Linked DNA regions of Homo sapiens: region 1 is linked to region 2. The links come from fine-mapping of genetic effects on gene expression. Tissue or cell type: fibroblasts. Region 2 holds a variant in brackets; the other region holds the start of a gene. All regions are shown on one strand. Distances are from middle to middle.

Region 1 (8,107 bases), 40 kb after region 2:
ACCTCGGCACTGGTAAAAAGAGGGCTCAACCTGTCTCTAGATTTACAGTCTAATGCTTGCTCTGCCATTTTACCCTCATACTTATGTTCATCAATCATTGATGAAAAAGAAAAGAAAAAAAAAATGACTGGAATAAGGGCACCTTACTGGTAAGAAAGAACCAAACCTCAAACCCGTACCTTCTATGTCATGGTGTTCTGGGTATCAGCAATAACAACAGTCACCCTTTTACTGAGCATTTACTCATGTTAATTACTGGGTGTATTAGAGTTCTTCAGAGAAACAGAACCAATGGCATATATTTACATCTAGAAAGGGATTTGTTATAAGGTATTAGCTCATGCAGTTATGGAGGCTGAGAAGTCCCATGATCTGCTGTCTGCAAGCTGGAGACTTGTTAGCAGGAAGGCTGGTGTTGTAGCCTGAAGGCCTGAGAGCCAAGGGTGTAGGTTCCAGCCTGAGTGTGAAGGCCTCAGCACCAGGAGCACCAAGGGCAGAAGATATCCCAGATCAAGCATGCAGGAGGAGACAGGACACATTCTTCCTTCTTTGGCTTTTTGTTCTATTTAGGCCCTCAACAGACTGGATGCTGCCCACCTACTTTGGGGAGGGCAATCCACTTTACTCAGTCTATCCATTCAAATGCTCATCTTTTCTGAAAACAACTTCACAGACACACCAAGAAATAATGTTTAACCAGATATCTGGGCATCCGTGATCCAGTCAAGATGACATGTAAAAGTAACTATCACACTGGGCTAAGCATTTTACATGCAAGACTGCAATCCTCACTTAAACCTGCAAGGTAGGTGGTGTTAGCCTTATTTGCAGGAGGTGAAACCAAGTCCCTGGGAGGTTTGAGTAACTTGTCCCAGGTCACACAGCACAGTAAGTGGGAGAGATGGAATTTGGATCCTGGTCTGAAGCCCATGCTCAGTCTCCTAACCACTTGCTACCATCCCTCTGCCTCATTAAGATAAATTCTGAGCTAAAGATGAACACTGAACGAGTGGTAAGCAATCTACTACCTGCTGAGTTCAGTTCCCTAGGGTCAGTACTGTATTTACTTTCACATTCACTATTCTAATTCACACTTTGACCATGAGCTCAACACTGGGAACTAATCTGAGGGCATAAAGTAAGGCTTTTTCCCCTACTTGTCTTACAAAAGTGATCCTGTTTACTGTGAAAGATTTGCAAACTACAAAAAAGTATAGTTCCTCAAAAAAATAAACATAGAATTACCATATGATCTAGCAATTCCCCTGCTACATATATACCCCAAAGAATTGAAAGCAGGGACTCGAACAGATATTTGATACTCATGTTCATAGCAACATTATTTACAACAGCTAAAATGTAGAAGTAACCAAAATGTTTACCGACAGATAAGTAGATAAACAAAATGTGGTCTATACATGCAATGGAGTATTATTCAGCCTTAACAAGGAAGGAAATCCTAATGCATGCTACAGCATGGGATAAACTTTGAAGACATCATGCTGAATGAAATAGTCACAAAAGGAAGAATATTGTGTTACTCCACTTACATGAGGTTTCTAGAATAGTCAAATTAATAAAGATGGAAAGTAGAAAGGTCATGGAGGGAAAATAAGGGAGTTGTTTAACTACAGTTTCAATTTTGCTAGATGAAAAGAGTTCTGCCAATGGATAGTGGTGGTGATGGTTGCACAATGTGAATGCACTTCATGCCACTGAACTGTATCTTTAAAAATAGTTAAGATGGTAAAATGTATGTTATGTATCTTTTACCACCATAAAAAAAGTATAAAGAAACAGGAAAAAAAATTGGCTATGGTATCTCAGTGCAACTCTGTTGATATGTTCACATGGTCTTTCTGAGTCTTTTTTCTAATCTTAGCCTTTTGATGGGTCTTTTTTGACAGCTTCCTCTCTTCTCCATTACAGGAACATGTTTTTGCAGTTGTGCGACCCAAAGAGGCCATTTCAAGCTGCCCCATCAGATGTGGAGCGCTGATGTGTAAGTATTACTTTAATATCCATGACATGGCTGGGTAGACAAGAGACTCCCAGGAAAGACCGAAATCACAGAACACGATTATGGGCAATCTGGGCTCCTGGGGACCTTTAGGGCACGCCATCTCGTACTGATGAAGGATCACTGATTTATCAGATGTTACCCTGCTTAAACAGAAGCAGCCTATTAGCGCAGCTCACACCATTCCTAGAATCAAACATATCCAACCCACCCCCCTCATTTTACAGAGAAAAATCAATTGAGAACCGCAGATCTTATTCCTAGAAAGCTGATGAACCCTGTTTCTCTCGCAATGGGAAGACCTGGCTGCCCCAGGCTGCATCCCCACCTGCCACAGGGGCTGGCGCTCGCTCTGCAGTTGGCCGCAGTCCCCTCCACTCTTCTCTCCAAATAGGCTCGGGTCTTTAACCTAGACTACCCCACTGGCCCCGAAGCATTTTTTTTTTTTTTTAGATAGGGTCTACCTCTGTCGCCCAGGCTGGAGTGTGGAGTGCGGTGGCGCGATCTCGGCTCACTGCAACCTCCGTCTCCTGGGGGCATGCGATTCTCCTGCCTTAGCCTCCTGAGTAGCTGGGACTACAGGCGCGCACCACCACACCTGGCTAGTTTTTGTATTTTTAGTAGAGATGGGATTTCGCCATGTTGGGCAGGCTGGTCTCGAACTCCTGACCTCAAGTGATCCACCCATCTCGGCCTCCCAAAGTGCTGGGATTACAGGTGTCCGCCACCACGCCCGGCTAATTTTTGTACTTTTAGCAGAGATGAGGTTTTGCCATGTTGGCCAGGCTGGTCTCGAACTCCTGACCTCTGGTGATCCACCCGCTTTGACCTCCCTAAGTGCTGGGATTACAGGCGCGAGACACCGGGCCCGGCCCCCCGCCGAAGCATTTTTAACTGCGGTGCCGGCTTTAAAAAAACTTTTAGGTCAAGAAATGCGCTCCAGAAGCTCGGCGAGGGTAGGCTGGGCAGGCGCCTTCCGTCACCGGCGCAGCGGTAGCGGCAGCGGACATCCCCGCCTGGGCAGGCCCAGGTCCGCGGAAGCCTCGGGGCCCTGGCCCCACTGTGTCACACACCGCCCGGGGCCGGGCCCCTGCACGCCCGCGGGCTTCGGCGTCCGTACCGGTACAGCGGGCGGCGACACCTACCTCGCGGGACCGTGCCCAGCACCCGGCCTGGCACACAGCGGGCACCCGGTCGGGGGGCGGTGTCGCGCAGTCCCAGCGAAAAGGCTGCAGGAGCAATGACAACAGGGGCGGAAGCCCCCTCCCCACGCAGCCCGAGGGGCCGCGGCGGCCACCCGCGCCGGGCCCCAGGACCCCGCACCTCAGACTGGGGTCGCGTGGGTGGCTGCGCGCAGCTAGGCGCTCGCGCATGCGCACCGCCATCCAGGCCACGGAATGAGGCCAGAGGTTAGATGGGTTGAACCACTACGGGAAGGGGAGGGGAAGCTTTGGGAGGAGTGATGGAGGGTGGAAAGCGGAAGAAAAAAGCAAGATGGGACCGCAAGCTGGACGTGACTGTAAGGGGTCATGGCTGCGGAATCCAGCAGGGGCATTGGGGTTGACGTGCACTCAGCGCCGAGCTTCTTCGTAGTTCCTCACCCCCTTGGCTACTATGGGCTGGTCCGGAAGGTCAGGCAAGGGGAAGCTGCGCAGGCGCAGTGTGAGCGGCAACATGGCGTCCAGGTCTAAGCGGCGTGCCGTGGAAAGTGGGGTTCCGCAGCCGCCGGATCCCCCAGTCCAGCGCGACGAGGAAGAGGAAAAAGAAGTCGAAAATGAGGATGAAGACGATGATGACAGTGACAAGGAAAAGGATGAAGAGGACGAGGTCATTGACGAGGTGAGAAGGACACGCTCCCCTAGTTGGTTTATACCTGAGAAAAACTTTTTGGCAAGCCCAGGCTGTGTAAAAATAGTGTAGGGTCTTCCCTGACCCTGAGGGTCTGTGAGGAGAAACTGGAGATAAGTTCTTTCTCAGGTTTCTCCTCGGTCTTTAACACACTGCAGCCATAGTAGTTATTTTTTAAAGGTCTAGTCCGGTCCAGTTAATCTCCCAACCCGCGTCCTCCCCGAAAAAGCCCGCCACAACAGGTGTGTTCTTCTCGTCCTCTTTAGTTCTCAGGCTGAAGCCTCAGATCCTGAATCGGCCACCCCGGGCTCGCAGAGGGGGCCCTCTCCCCTCGGGGCAGCAGCTGTCCTCCTCTTCACTCTGCGGGCGGCACTCACTTGGGCCCTCAGTTTCTTGAAGGCTCTTGCCGCGTTCTACCGTAGAAGCCTTTTCAAATGCTCTTCTTTATCCTGCAGTTTTCCCTTCCTTCTTCAGATCTCAGCTAGGCTGTATTTTCTGGCTCCTGGGGCAGCTGACCAAGTCGTGGGTAAATCTTTGGTTTCATAGTCTCATAGAACTGTGTTCCTTTCTTCAGACTAGGTCCTACCGTAGTGCCTGGCAATATAGGTACTTATTATTTGTTTAGTAAACAATTAGGACTGAATGATCCTTCAGCCTACTGAATGTTTAAATAGATACCTCAGCCTTAACTTGTCCAAAGCAGAATTTGTATAATAATTCATGCCCCTCTCTTAATCGTCACCATTTCTATAAATGGCCCCTAAAGTCACCAGCTGCTCTAACCCAAAACCTGGGGCTTAACTTTAATTCCTCCCTTTCCTCATCCTATATCCAGCCCATCAGTAAATCCTGTTATCCAGACATTTCTCAGCACTAATTCTGAGACCATCGTAGTCCACACCTCTATCATCTCTTGCCTGGACTACTATTTAATGTAACAGCTTTTAACCGGCGTTCTTTTCTCCATTTTTGTTCCCCTACAATCAGTCTATACTCCACTTACAGTCAGAGAGATCTTATAGGTCTGATCTCAGGCCTCTGCTTAGATTGCTGCATTGGCTTTCTAGTTCATTTACAAGAAAATCAAGAGTCTTCACAATTGAGGGACGGAAAGGCAGCCTAGATGGCTGGATCAGAATAAGGAAGAGAGAGTGATAGGAAATAAAATCAGAGAGGTAATCATGAGTCATGATGAGCATGGAGGGGAGCATGGAGAGAAGCATGGATGCAGGATTAGAGGTGACACCATGGTGTGGGTATGTGATCAATCTTCCTTCCCTTACAAATTTTACTTTGGCTCTATGCCTTGAATGCCATCTCACCATTTTTCACTTAGAACTTTGACTGGCTCTTTTATTACTTTTGGGTTATAGAAATCAATGCTGCTTGTGTTAACATGGGAAATCTATCACACCACCACAGTCTTAATTCTAAATCACCTGGGAATGAGGGACAGGGCTCTTTTCTACAAACGTGACTGTTCCTGCTGAAGCCATGTGGAGATGAGCCCATACCCAGGAAAAGGGTGCTGGACAGATAATCCATTTGCCGCCCATTTCCCTGGTGGTGCCATAATAGTCTGGGACAGAGGTCCGAGATGTCTGTCTAGACAAAGAAAAAAACACTAGATGAGCATTATTTACAGAATGTATTTATATCTAAGGAATAAGTTTAAGTCCTGAATAATGACAGTTTGTTATTTGGTTTAGTTTGATCCTGTTTGGAACACTCCCACCCGACCCCTTGTGTTTTGCTGCTCACATAATCTGGCTAAGTTAGCATTTGAAGTCTGCAAAGCTGGACTTAAAGAGTTCAAATTGGAGCTGGAATTGCTCTAAGCAATTCCAGGGCCTTGCAATTTTACAATTAAGGAAGACTTAAATATATACATAGTCAGGGTGGCAAGGTAAAAGGAGGTCTGATTTCCTCTGCGATGTTCTTCAGCTAAGACCTAAATTCTGAAACCGTTAAAACCTGAAGTGCCTTTAAATATATTATTTCATCAGAGCCCCAGGTTCATTGTGTCACTTATCAAGGTCTGATTTAGGGTCCTCAAGGACTAATCTTGTTAGTGTTTAAAAGCAACTAGGTTTTGTTTTTGGCATTTTAGTTCCATCTTCTAGATTCTGTTGTCTTGCAGATAGAGATCAGGGAGCCCAGCTACACATTCATTCTTCTAGTCCCTTGTACTCATTGTATTTCCTTCTGCCTTAGGGCCTTAGTTTGTGCTGTTCCCTGTACCAGGAACTCTCTTTGCTGTTTCTCGGTTTCTTGCTCAAATGTCACTTCAAGGAAGGCTTTCCTGACTGACTTCTTATTTTTTAAGTTGTTACAACATTGTGTACCTTTGTTTTATAGCACTTACATTTATTTCTATGAATATTTCCTTAATGCCTATATTCCTTCCTAAATCGTAAGCTGCACGAGAGCAGGATCATTTGTGTCTGCCTTACTAACCTTTTCATCTTGAGTGCCTGGCACAGTGCTTGGTACCTGGATTGATACTTAATAAATATTTGCTAAGCAAATGTAGTGTAACCTCAAATCCATGGGCTAAGTCAAGCTCTAGGCAATTCCAGGGACTTTTGAAGTGATTTTGATTTTTGCCCACCCTTGTAATCAGGAAAATAATTTATCCTTTGTGGCTGCCGTGTCTGGTTTATTTGAACTGGACTTTCTCAACATTTAAACTAGGTTACTCTGAGTGTTTTGTTTTCTCAGGCTTTTGTGTCACCTGAAGAAATAGTGTGAAGGTGCTTTGTATTCTTCACAGATGGCAATCTTGGCAATGTTTGCCTGTTTTAAAGTCTAGATGTTTGTAGTTTTTCTGGTAACAACTATTTTGTGTGTTATTTACAGGAAGTGAATATTGAATTTGAAGCTTATTCCCTATCAGATAATGATTATGACGGAATTAAGAAATTACTGCAGCAGGTATTGTCTTTTATTTATTATGCATAAATTTCCTCTTCTAAGAAAAATCAGGGGCCGGGTGCAGTGGTTCATGCCTATAATCTCAGCATTTTGGAAGGCCGAGGTGAGAGGATTGCTTGAGCCCAGGAGTTTGAGACCAGCCTGGGCAACATAATGAGAACCTGTCTCTACAAAAAAATTAAAAATTAGCCAACTGTGGTAGCACACACCGTTAGTCCTAACTCCTCAGGAGGCTGAGGCTGGAGGATTACTTGAGTCTAAGAGCTCAAGGCTGCAGCTATGAATGTGCCATTGAGCTCCAGTCTGGGCAACAGAGTGAGCCTCTGTCTCTAAAAAAAAAGAAAATTCAGGTCATTCAATACAGGCTCTCCCAAGTTCATCTTTTTAGAATTTCCATTTCTATCCTCTCCACCTTGCCTGGAAGGAAGAATTATTTCCTTTCATCTGCTAATTAGAGTTATTTTGTTTTTTTTTTTAATTCACAATTCTTATGTAACAGTCATATAACTGTGCTGTTTGGTGCTATAAAATTGATGCTTGCTGCTTCTCCTTATTCTTTTACTCATATAATATGACTTTGGTTCTTTAGCCTTTATAGCTCTACCGTCTTTTTCACCAAATTCTTTGGCCTTAAGTTTATCCTCTCTCGTTTCTCCCTTTTTTCTCCCCCTCCCCCATTACTTCTATATTACTACTGACTTCTTCTTTTCTGAAATTTCCTAATCTTTAGCTTCTTTGACTCTCCTGGGCTTTTCTTTCCCTCTTGGGGTTGCTTTTCTAGATCATCATCTTAAGTCACAGAAATTTCATTGTTTGTATTTGAATATAGGATTTGAAGTTATTAGAAATCATGCTTTGATCTTAATTTAAAATAATTTTTTCCTCCTTTTAGCTTTTTCTAAAGGCTCCTGTGAACACTGCAGAACTAACAGATCTCTTAATTCAACAGAACCATATTGGGAGTGTGATTAAGGTAAGTAGGATAATTGTGTTTATTCTGATTAAATGAGTTCTTTATTCTGTTCATGCTGGGCCTCACCATGCTTGTAATCCCAGCACTTTGGGAAGCAAAGGTGGGAGGATTGCTTGAGGCCAGGAGTTCAAGACCATCCTGGGCAATATAGCAATACTCTGTCTCTACAAAAAATAACAAAAAATTAGCCGGGCATAGTAGCACATGCCTGTAGTCTTTTTACCCAGGTGGCTGAGGTAGGAGGATCTCTTGAGCCAAGAAGTTGAAGGCCATGGTGAGCTTTGTGCCGCTGCACTCTAGCCGGGCAACACAGCAAGACCCTATATCTGAAA
Region 2 (8,107 bases):
AAGCCAGGCTTCAGAGAGCATTCAGCCCTTTGCCCGTCTGCCATATGAGGACACAGTGTTCAAGGCACCATCTGGCAACAGAAACCAGGCCCTCGTCAGACATCAAGTCTTGCTCTTGGACTTGCCAGCCTCCAGAACTGTGAAAATTTTTATTATTTATAAATGACCCAGTCTCAGGTGTTTTGGTATAGCATCACAAATGGACTAAGACAGAGATCACAGGCTTGAGGGCTTCATTACTGAAGGGTCTTGTTCCCTAAAGTTATTATTCTTTAAGAAACTTTATGGTGCGGTGGCCTCATGCAGCTTGGGTGCTTGACTTGGGGAAGTATGTTCACCATGTGGATGTTTGCTCTTCTTTTGGAGGATTCTTCTCTCCGATTATTACTAAGCTTTGGAATGTACTGGCTGCTCAAGGCTGAGAATGTTTGATTAACCAAATTGCTCACTCCAGGTTAATTGGATTTCAAGGAAATCAATTGGATTTAGGAGGGAAAATGTCAGAGGAAGACACGTGACCTACAATAAAGACAACATGAGGGACAGGGGCTCCCGCACAAACTGGTTCCTGGTCTGTGCAGACCACCTCCCGTTCCTGAGGCGGGGCAAGGCTTTGGCTTGGAGCTTCTACAATCTCTGTAAGCCATGACATGCGTAACCTAATTGTCAGCGGGAGAACTGAAGTTTTTTTCCCCTAAAACATTCATCATTTACAAAGTGGATTTGCTTTTTTTTTTTTTTTTTTGAGATAGGGTCTCACTTTGTTACCCAGGCTGAGGAGCAGTGGCACAGTCACAGCTCAACTGCAGCCGTGACTTCTCTGGCTCAAGTGATCTTCCCACCTCAGCCTCCCGCAAGTAGCTGGGACTACAGGTGTGAGCCACCGTGCCCAGCTAATTTTTGTATGTTTTTGTAGAGGTATGGTTTTGCCATGTTGTCCAGGCTGGTCTTGAACTCCTGGGCTCAAGCAATCTGCCCACCTCGGCCTCCCAAAGTGTTGGGATTACAGGCATGAGCCACTGCACCCAGCCTGGATTTGCATATTCTTAGTATAGTTGGACAATAATATTTGGAAACAGTCATTCCCACAGGAGATCTTTGAGCCTTATGTTCAATGAGGGGTCAGTTCTGACTCTGAAAGTGAGCAGAGCTCAGGGGGCCCAGGTGCTGGGGAGTGATGCCATCAGCACCAGGGCAGGCCTGTTGTTTCCAGCTGCATAGCGTGCCTGAGACAGAAAGACCCTTCCCAGTGTCTGTCCTGATTCCCTTCTTTCCAGACTGCATTTTGGTCTCTTTTCATCCACAAATAAACCCTTTTCCCCATCTCTGGGCCGGCATAGGACCCTCGGCCTCCCTGGGGAGAACTGCTTGTGTTTTACACACATGAGAGTCTGCGTTTGGGGCTTGTTCCTCCCTGCAAAGGATGCACATGGAGGCTGCTCAGTGGTTGCGGGAGGGAGGCCCCGCTCACTACCCACCTGCACTTCTCTGCCAAGGCACACCCAGGCCTCCTGGCCTCCGGATGAGAATTATGCTCATCGTTGCTGGTGGTATCCCTCAGAAAGCTCCCAACTGGTTCTGCTCTGAGAGTGGGGCCTTCTGATGAGGAGATGCCCGCAGTCTGCTGGTCAAACCCAGCTCTTCTCAGGGCAGCTGCCAGGGCAACAGCAATGACACCAGTTGAGAAGCTGAGATTTCCCAAGCACGATGGTAAATTCTGTATGTCAGTGTGACGGGGCCAAGGGATGGCCACAGACCTGGTAAAACACTGTTCCTGGGTGTGTCTGTGAGGGTGTTCTACGAGAGATGAGCATTTAAATTAGTAAAGAAGAGCCAGCCTCACCCGCAGGCAGGAGTCATCCAGTCCACTGAGGGCTCGAGGAGAACGAAAAGGCCGACGAAGGGCAAATCCTCCCACTTCCTGAGCTGGGACATTCATCTTCTTTGTCCCTTGAATCCTGTCTATCCAGGTTCCCAGGCCCTCAGAGCCCAGGACTTACAGAAGCACTGCCTTCTCGCACTGCCTTCTCCCCAGGCCTTCTTCAGACGCGGACTGGAAGTCACACCACCAGCTCCCCGGCTCTCAGCCTCCAGGCTCAGGCTGAACTGCAAGCACTGGCTTTCCTGGGTCTCCAGCTTGCGGCCCACAGATGCTGGCCTCCTCGGCCTCCAGAATTATGTGAGCCAATTCCCCTAAGTGCCCCCTAGTCTGTCTGTCTGTCTGTCTGTCTCTCTCTCTCTCTCTGTCCATCTATCCCATTGGTTCTGTTTCTCTGGAGAACCCTAATACATTGAGAGAGAGGACCCCAGAAGCAGACCAGACGCAGAGGGAAGAGGAAGCGGTCTGGCCTGGCTCAGAGATGGGATCTGGCTGGTTACGTGGGACTCCTTTCCGTCTCTGGAAATGCAATTTTTACAGGACTTGGGGGTGTTTGGGTGAGAGGTGAGGAAAAAGTTACGAACTCCCCAGGTCCAGAAATTTAGTCACACGCTGAACACTCAGTAAAGTAACTCAGTGAGTCAGCTTGGTGACAGGCCCCATGAGTGTGAAGCATGCAGAATTTTCCATGCAGATTAAAGCCCCTGTCGCCGAGGTTACACGGCAAAGCTCAACCCACTGCTGCTAGACCCATCTGCTGGCCTCTCTCCCATCTGCACCACGTGGCCCCTGGCTCCCGTCACCCCCCATACTCCTGAAAAGCTGCTACACATGCGCCGCCCCTGAGGGACCCATCAGGCTGAGAACAAGAACCAGCTCTTTCCATAACCGCACCACGCCTGGGTCTCTCTGCTGGCTTGGGGAGGGGACACAGGTTACATGTCAGAGGGTCCAGAGGCTTAGAGGTGGACACGGTACCCTGGAGAAGGGTGTAGGAAGGAACCATCTCAGGCCCAGGCCCAGTTTCTGTCCTGCCGCCGAAAGCGGGTTGACGCTGAGGAGTCTCTACCCTGTCGTCGGAGCATCAGTTTCCCATCCGTTAAGAGAGTTTGAGCTGCTGCCTCCAGATGTGTTCACCACTGAGAAAAGTGTTGCTACAGCCCATTGGAGGGTCAATAGCTTAATGCGGTGATTAACAAACACCGTGTAAAATGTTCTGAGAAATAAATAATATTGCTCATGATTTGCTTCTGGGGCTGAGAGGAGAAGCTTATCTGGGAAAAGCATCGCTGATGGTAAAGGCAGGATTCCGATCATTACCCCCCACACCTATGAGTCCTAGGCCTCTGCTAGGGGCTCAGGGAGCAGAGACAAGCACAGGTCCAGCTCTCAGGAGCCCACAAACACCCTGAGAAGAACAAGGTCTCAGAATGTCAGAGAGGTGGAGTGACCACAGCTTGGAGCTGCGCATACACACGGGCTGTGGGCAGTCAAGCCAGGCTGAAAAGGGGGCTTGGAGGCCATGCCGAGGAACATGACCCCCGTCCTGCAGTCCTGGGGAGCCCCGCCAAGGGGAGGTGGACTCCAGCGTTCCCGTGGGAACACTCTCTCATCTAACTCTCTCTCAGCCCTTGGTCAGCAAAGTTTCAATCTGCCTCCACCTCACTTAACCTTGTGTATGGCATTAAATTCCTCCAAGTCCAGTTTTTCTTGTCCCCAAAATGCAGGTAATAGGACCCACCTGATAGGGCTATTTTGAGGATTAAATGAGATGTTGAGGGGAAATGTTTAAGTCTCTTTTAATTCAGAGTGTTAAGTTTAGCCTAAAGCTGCCTCCTTACATGTTTTAAGTTCAGCCTAAAGAATTCTCCGTATACAGTGAACTGTAACCTAAATAGTTACAGCTATGGGTACAAGAGTAGGTTACAGCCTGTTTGTAGGATACAGCTTGGGCTCTGTCCTAGATGTGTAAACAGGCTGTAACCTACTCTTG[T/C]ACCAATCACTGAATTTCAGCCAATCAGAGGTGGCCAACTGCTCAAACCCTGTTCAAATAAGGCAAATGCCGAGATGTAACCAATTCAGCTGTTTCTGCATCTCACTTCCATTTTCTGTACGTCACTTTCCCTTTACTGTCCATAAATCTTCAACCACGAGGCAGCGCCCCAGCCTCTCTGAACCTTTCTGGTTTAGGGGCTGCCCCATTCGCAAATCATTCTTTGCTCAATTAAACTCTCTCAAATGTAATTTGTCTAAGGTTTTCTTTTAACAAGAGATAAATATGATAAAAGACTACATTTCTCCTGTAAGCACTGTGCATACCTTCCAAGCAGTAGGGTGCTTACCAGTAAGAACGAAAGAAACTGTCCAAGCAAATGCATTCCTGCAGCTTTTGTAGGTTTTATCAGTATTTTGTGAAAATGAGAATTCTGCTGCTGAAGTCTTTTTGTTGTTTCAGTTGCTTTTCAAACACTTTATATAATTGCACAAGGCATAAATCTATAAATAATATGCAAATACACAGCTTAAAATTGAACTTGATAAAAAGATTCAACAGTAAGTATATGAGGGACTTCTAGTAACCAAACTTTTCTTTTTTTTTTTTTTTTTTTGAGATGGAGTCTCGCTCTGTCACCCAGGCTAGAGTGCAGTGGCGCCATCTTGGCTCACTGCAACCTCCGCCTCCCAAGTTCAAGCAATTCTCCTGTCTCAGCCTCCTGAATAGCTGGGATTACATATGTGCACCACCATACCCAGCTAAGTTTCTGAATTTTTAGTAGAGATGGGGTTTCGCCATGTCAGCCAGGCTGATCTCGAAGCGATCCACCCGCCTCGGCCTCTTGAAGTGCTGGGATTACAGGCATGAGCCACTGCACCAGGCCAAGATTTTCTTAAAAGGGCATTTTATTCAAACTCGGAAACGGTTTATCTTGATGTTTACTCTACCAATTCACTTGATTATTTTATCATTTAGATTTGATTGTAAAAGAAAAAATCTCGTAGTAATAGTGGCTTAAACAAGATAGAAGTCGATATGTCTTTTACACTCAAGAAGTCTAGAGTTGGGATAGTTTTTGTGCCCACAGTGTCACCTTGTTCCAGAAAACTTTCTTTCCCCAATGTCATCTCAGGGCCCAAGATGCCCACTGGAGCTCCAGCTCTTCGATCTGTATTTCAGGAAGAAGGAAGAATGATGTCAGAGGTGTGCATCTCACTACATCCCCTTGGCTACAACTTAATCACACTCTCATGCCTGCCTGCGAAGGAAGCTGGGAAATGTAGTTCTTATTCCAAATGACCACGTACTTTGCTGAATATCAAGGATTCTTGTTCCAGAGTAATGAATATTGAGACCACCTCACTGACTCTATCCCTGTCATCTACTTCCTTAGAATTTTTAGTAAAATGATTCTTGGTAGCTTATTTTCTGAAGACTTGTATACAACACAATGTTTTTATTTTGTTACCTTCTATTCACAGGGAAGTTGTATTAACGCTTAACTCATTAAGTGAGTGACCACGTGTAACTCATGAGTTAAAGCACACAAAACTTACAACACTGTCTGAGAACATGTCCCATCAATGAGCTGTGGCCGGAAGGTCCAGAGGGAACATCTTCAGTTCTCACTGCTAGCCCCTCTGGGCCTGGGGGGCCAGTTGCACTTTACTTTGGCTCTCAAATTCCTGTGTGATCCTTTATTCCTTCCCTGCATGAACTTCTTCAGCAACTCTCCTCCATCCAGGAGCTGGAGGGGAAGGCACGTGAGAGCAGATGCAAAAAGGGAATGTAGATCACACAACTGTGGCAAAACCCTGTGCAGCACATCTGTTGAGCGTCTTCTCCCACCCCACCCTTCTGTCCCTTCTGATCCCCAGGAAGGACACAAGGAGGCTGGCCACCCAGCCTGCTGGGGCGTTACTCTGTTTGGAGCTGGCAGGGTGGGGGGTGCGACTCACTCACCGTCCTGGGTGGCCCTACTGCCACTCAGGGTGTCGAGTGAGACTCTGGCTTCCACCCGGCTTCCCACATTGACTCTGGGAATCCGGCACCTAGAACATCTACGAACTCAAAGCTGAACCTCTCCCAGCACATCAGGAATAGCTGGATCTATTAAAAAGTAGGAATGAAGTTTGGGAACAGATTTCCAAGGCCTTTCTATAGGGCTGTACATTTGCACATGAACCTTTTTTTTTTTTTTTTTAGACAGAGTTTTGCTCTTGTTGCCCAGGCTGGAGTGCAGTGGCACGATCTCAGCTCACTGCAACCTCCAACTCCTGGCTTCAAGCAATTCTCCTGCCTCAGCCTCCCAAGTAGCTGGGATTATAGGCACCCTCCACATCTGGCTAATTCTATATTTTTAGTAGAGATGGGGTTTCACCATGTTGGTCAGGCTGGTCTTGAACTCCTGATCCGCCCGCCTCAGCCTCCCACAGTGCTGGGATTACAGGTGTGAGCCACCGCGCCTGGCCACATGAACCTCTTCTAAGAAAATACTGACCTCCCAGACCCTCAGATTCCTGGGAGATCAGATGGTCTGTTTAATGCTGCAGTTGTATCTTTGAAGAAAAGCCTTATGCCAGCTTCTGTTCACTCCCATCTAGCCACTGAGCCATAGAATGATTAACATAATTATTGCCCTTAACAGAAACTGCAGTCCCGTGGGAGGGTGAGCAGAAGAAATGAGGTGTGACATCCCTGGGCTTCACTTTCTTGAGCTGAGTAATTACAGATCTTACCTTCTGTCCCACCAATACCTTCAGAACCAGGGTTTCTCCACAGTCCCTTTCAAACTGGCTTTTGCCTACTCAGCCTTCACGTTCTCAGGAATCTCCAGCCCAATTGCCAAAGCAAGCCCAGGCTCCCGACTCACGCAATCGTCGAGGACACTGCGCCTGCTGCTTTGCTCATCTCCCGCCCCGTATGAGCTCCCTGCCTTCCTGATCCCAAACAGAACCATCTTTAACCACGCCCTGGCGCACTCCATCTGAAACAAGGCTTCGCCAGAACTGTTAATAGCCTCACATCTCTTCAAAAGGTGGCTTCGGGTTGTGTGGGGATGAAAGGACACACGTGTGGTGTTTACTAGCATGTAGACATTTAGTGAACCTTTGTCCCCGATTCTGTCCCCTACCCCGAGGCTCTGAAAAGGAACCTATTTTCCCTGCCCTGCAACAGGGTGTTTTTCCTCCTCCTTCAATGTGTGCTTCCGAAGCCCACACATCCCTCCCGCTCTTGTCTGCCTACAGCTTGGACTTCTCCTCCTCCTTCCTCACTTCCGGGCTTGTCTTGCTTCTCCAGCCTCTTCACCATGCATGAGGGCATTCCTGATCACACTCCAGCTATGGGGGACCCCATTCCTGCAATCCAGCAGTTTCCAAACACGGGTGCACACTGGAGGCACCTGGAGAGCGTCTAACACCTCCTGCTGCTTGGGCTTTATTCTAGAAACCAATTCAGGGGACTCTCTGGGGGTGGGGCCTGAGCTACTTCATTTTAGAAGCACATTACGTGGTTCTGATGTATAGCCAGGTTCTTAGTTCCTGGGCAAATCTATTTCACTTTGGTACTATGGTGAAAACGTGTATGAAACAGTGCTTGCCCAATTATTTTCCTTAATCTTGACACAAGTGGTCACTTCATGGAACCATCACCATAATCCCGTTTTAGAACAGTTCTCAAAGAATTTCTGTATACTCACATCAAGATTTGGAGAACAATCATCACCAAATTCTAACCTCTCAACTAGTGTGAATCTCCTACGAGGTGGCTGATGAATTTCATTAGTCTAGGCCTCAGTGCTTATGCTCGTCCATGCCTTTTAATTTTGTTCTGGTTCTGCCACTCACTAGCATGTGACCCTGACAAATCATTTCACCTCACCAGAGTCTGTTTCCTCACCAGAAAAATGGAACAATAGGAATGTCCACTCCTCAGGGTTATGAGGAATGGAGATCAGAGACGGGGAGCCCAAATGCCTTTCAGCCAGATCTTTCAAGGAGACAGAGGTGTGTGGGCAGAGCCTTCCCACCACCAGCCCACATGCTACTAAGAGACAAGTCTGGGTTTCAGTCAACTTAGCCTAAACTTCAGGCTGAGTTGGGAATGAAGTTTGGGAACTTTGGGAATGAAGTTTGGGAACAGATTTCCAAAGCCTTTCTGCAGGGCACTGCATTTGCACATGAACCTCTTCTCAGTAAATACCGGCCTCTCTAGCCCCTCAGATTCCTGGG

What was found. PIP is the estimated chance that this variant, and not a neighbour inherited with it, causes the effect.
Region 1: it holds the start of UROS, and the variant in region 2 is fine-mapped to the expression of UROS in fibroblasts (GTEx, PIP 0.92).

Annotation. Positions count from the first base shown.
Region 1 is chr10:125,819,864-125,827,970 of GRCh38, forward strand. UROS (uroporphyrinogen III synthase) reads right to left here and starts at 3,395. Exons shown (of 10, transcript NM_000375.3): 1 at 3,166-3,395. It overlaps BCCIP (BRCA2 and CDKN1A interacting protein), which reads left to right and starts at 3,683. Exons shown (of 7, transcript NM_078468.3): 1 at 3,683-3,859; 2 at 6,728-6,802; 3 at 7,695-7,775. The coding sequence starts at 3,695. RefSeq lists silencers at 3,042-3,471, 4,228-4,447 and enhancers at 3,323-4,008, 3,552-3,751.
Region 2 is chr10:125,780,218-125,788,324 of GRCh38, forward strand. It overlaps a transcript of UROS not described here. Among named protein-coding and RNA genes, the nearest start is that of MMP21, 8.4 kb to the left of the region's middle. RefSeq lists a silencer at 3,751-3,810. The variant T/C (reference allele first, on the strand shown) is at 3,873.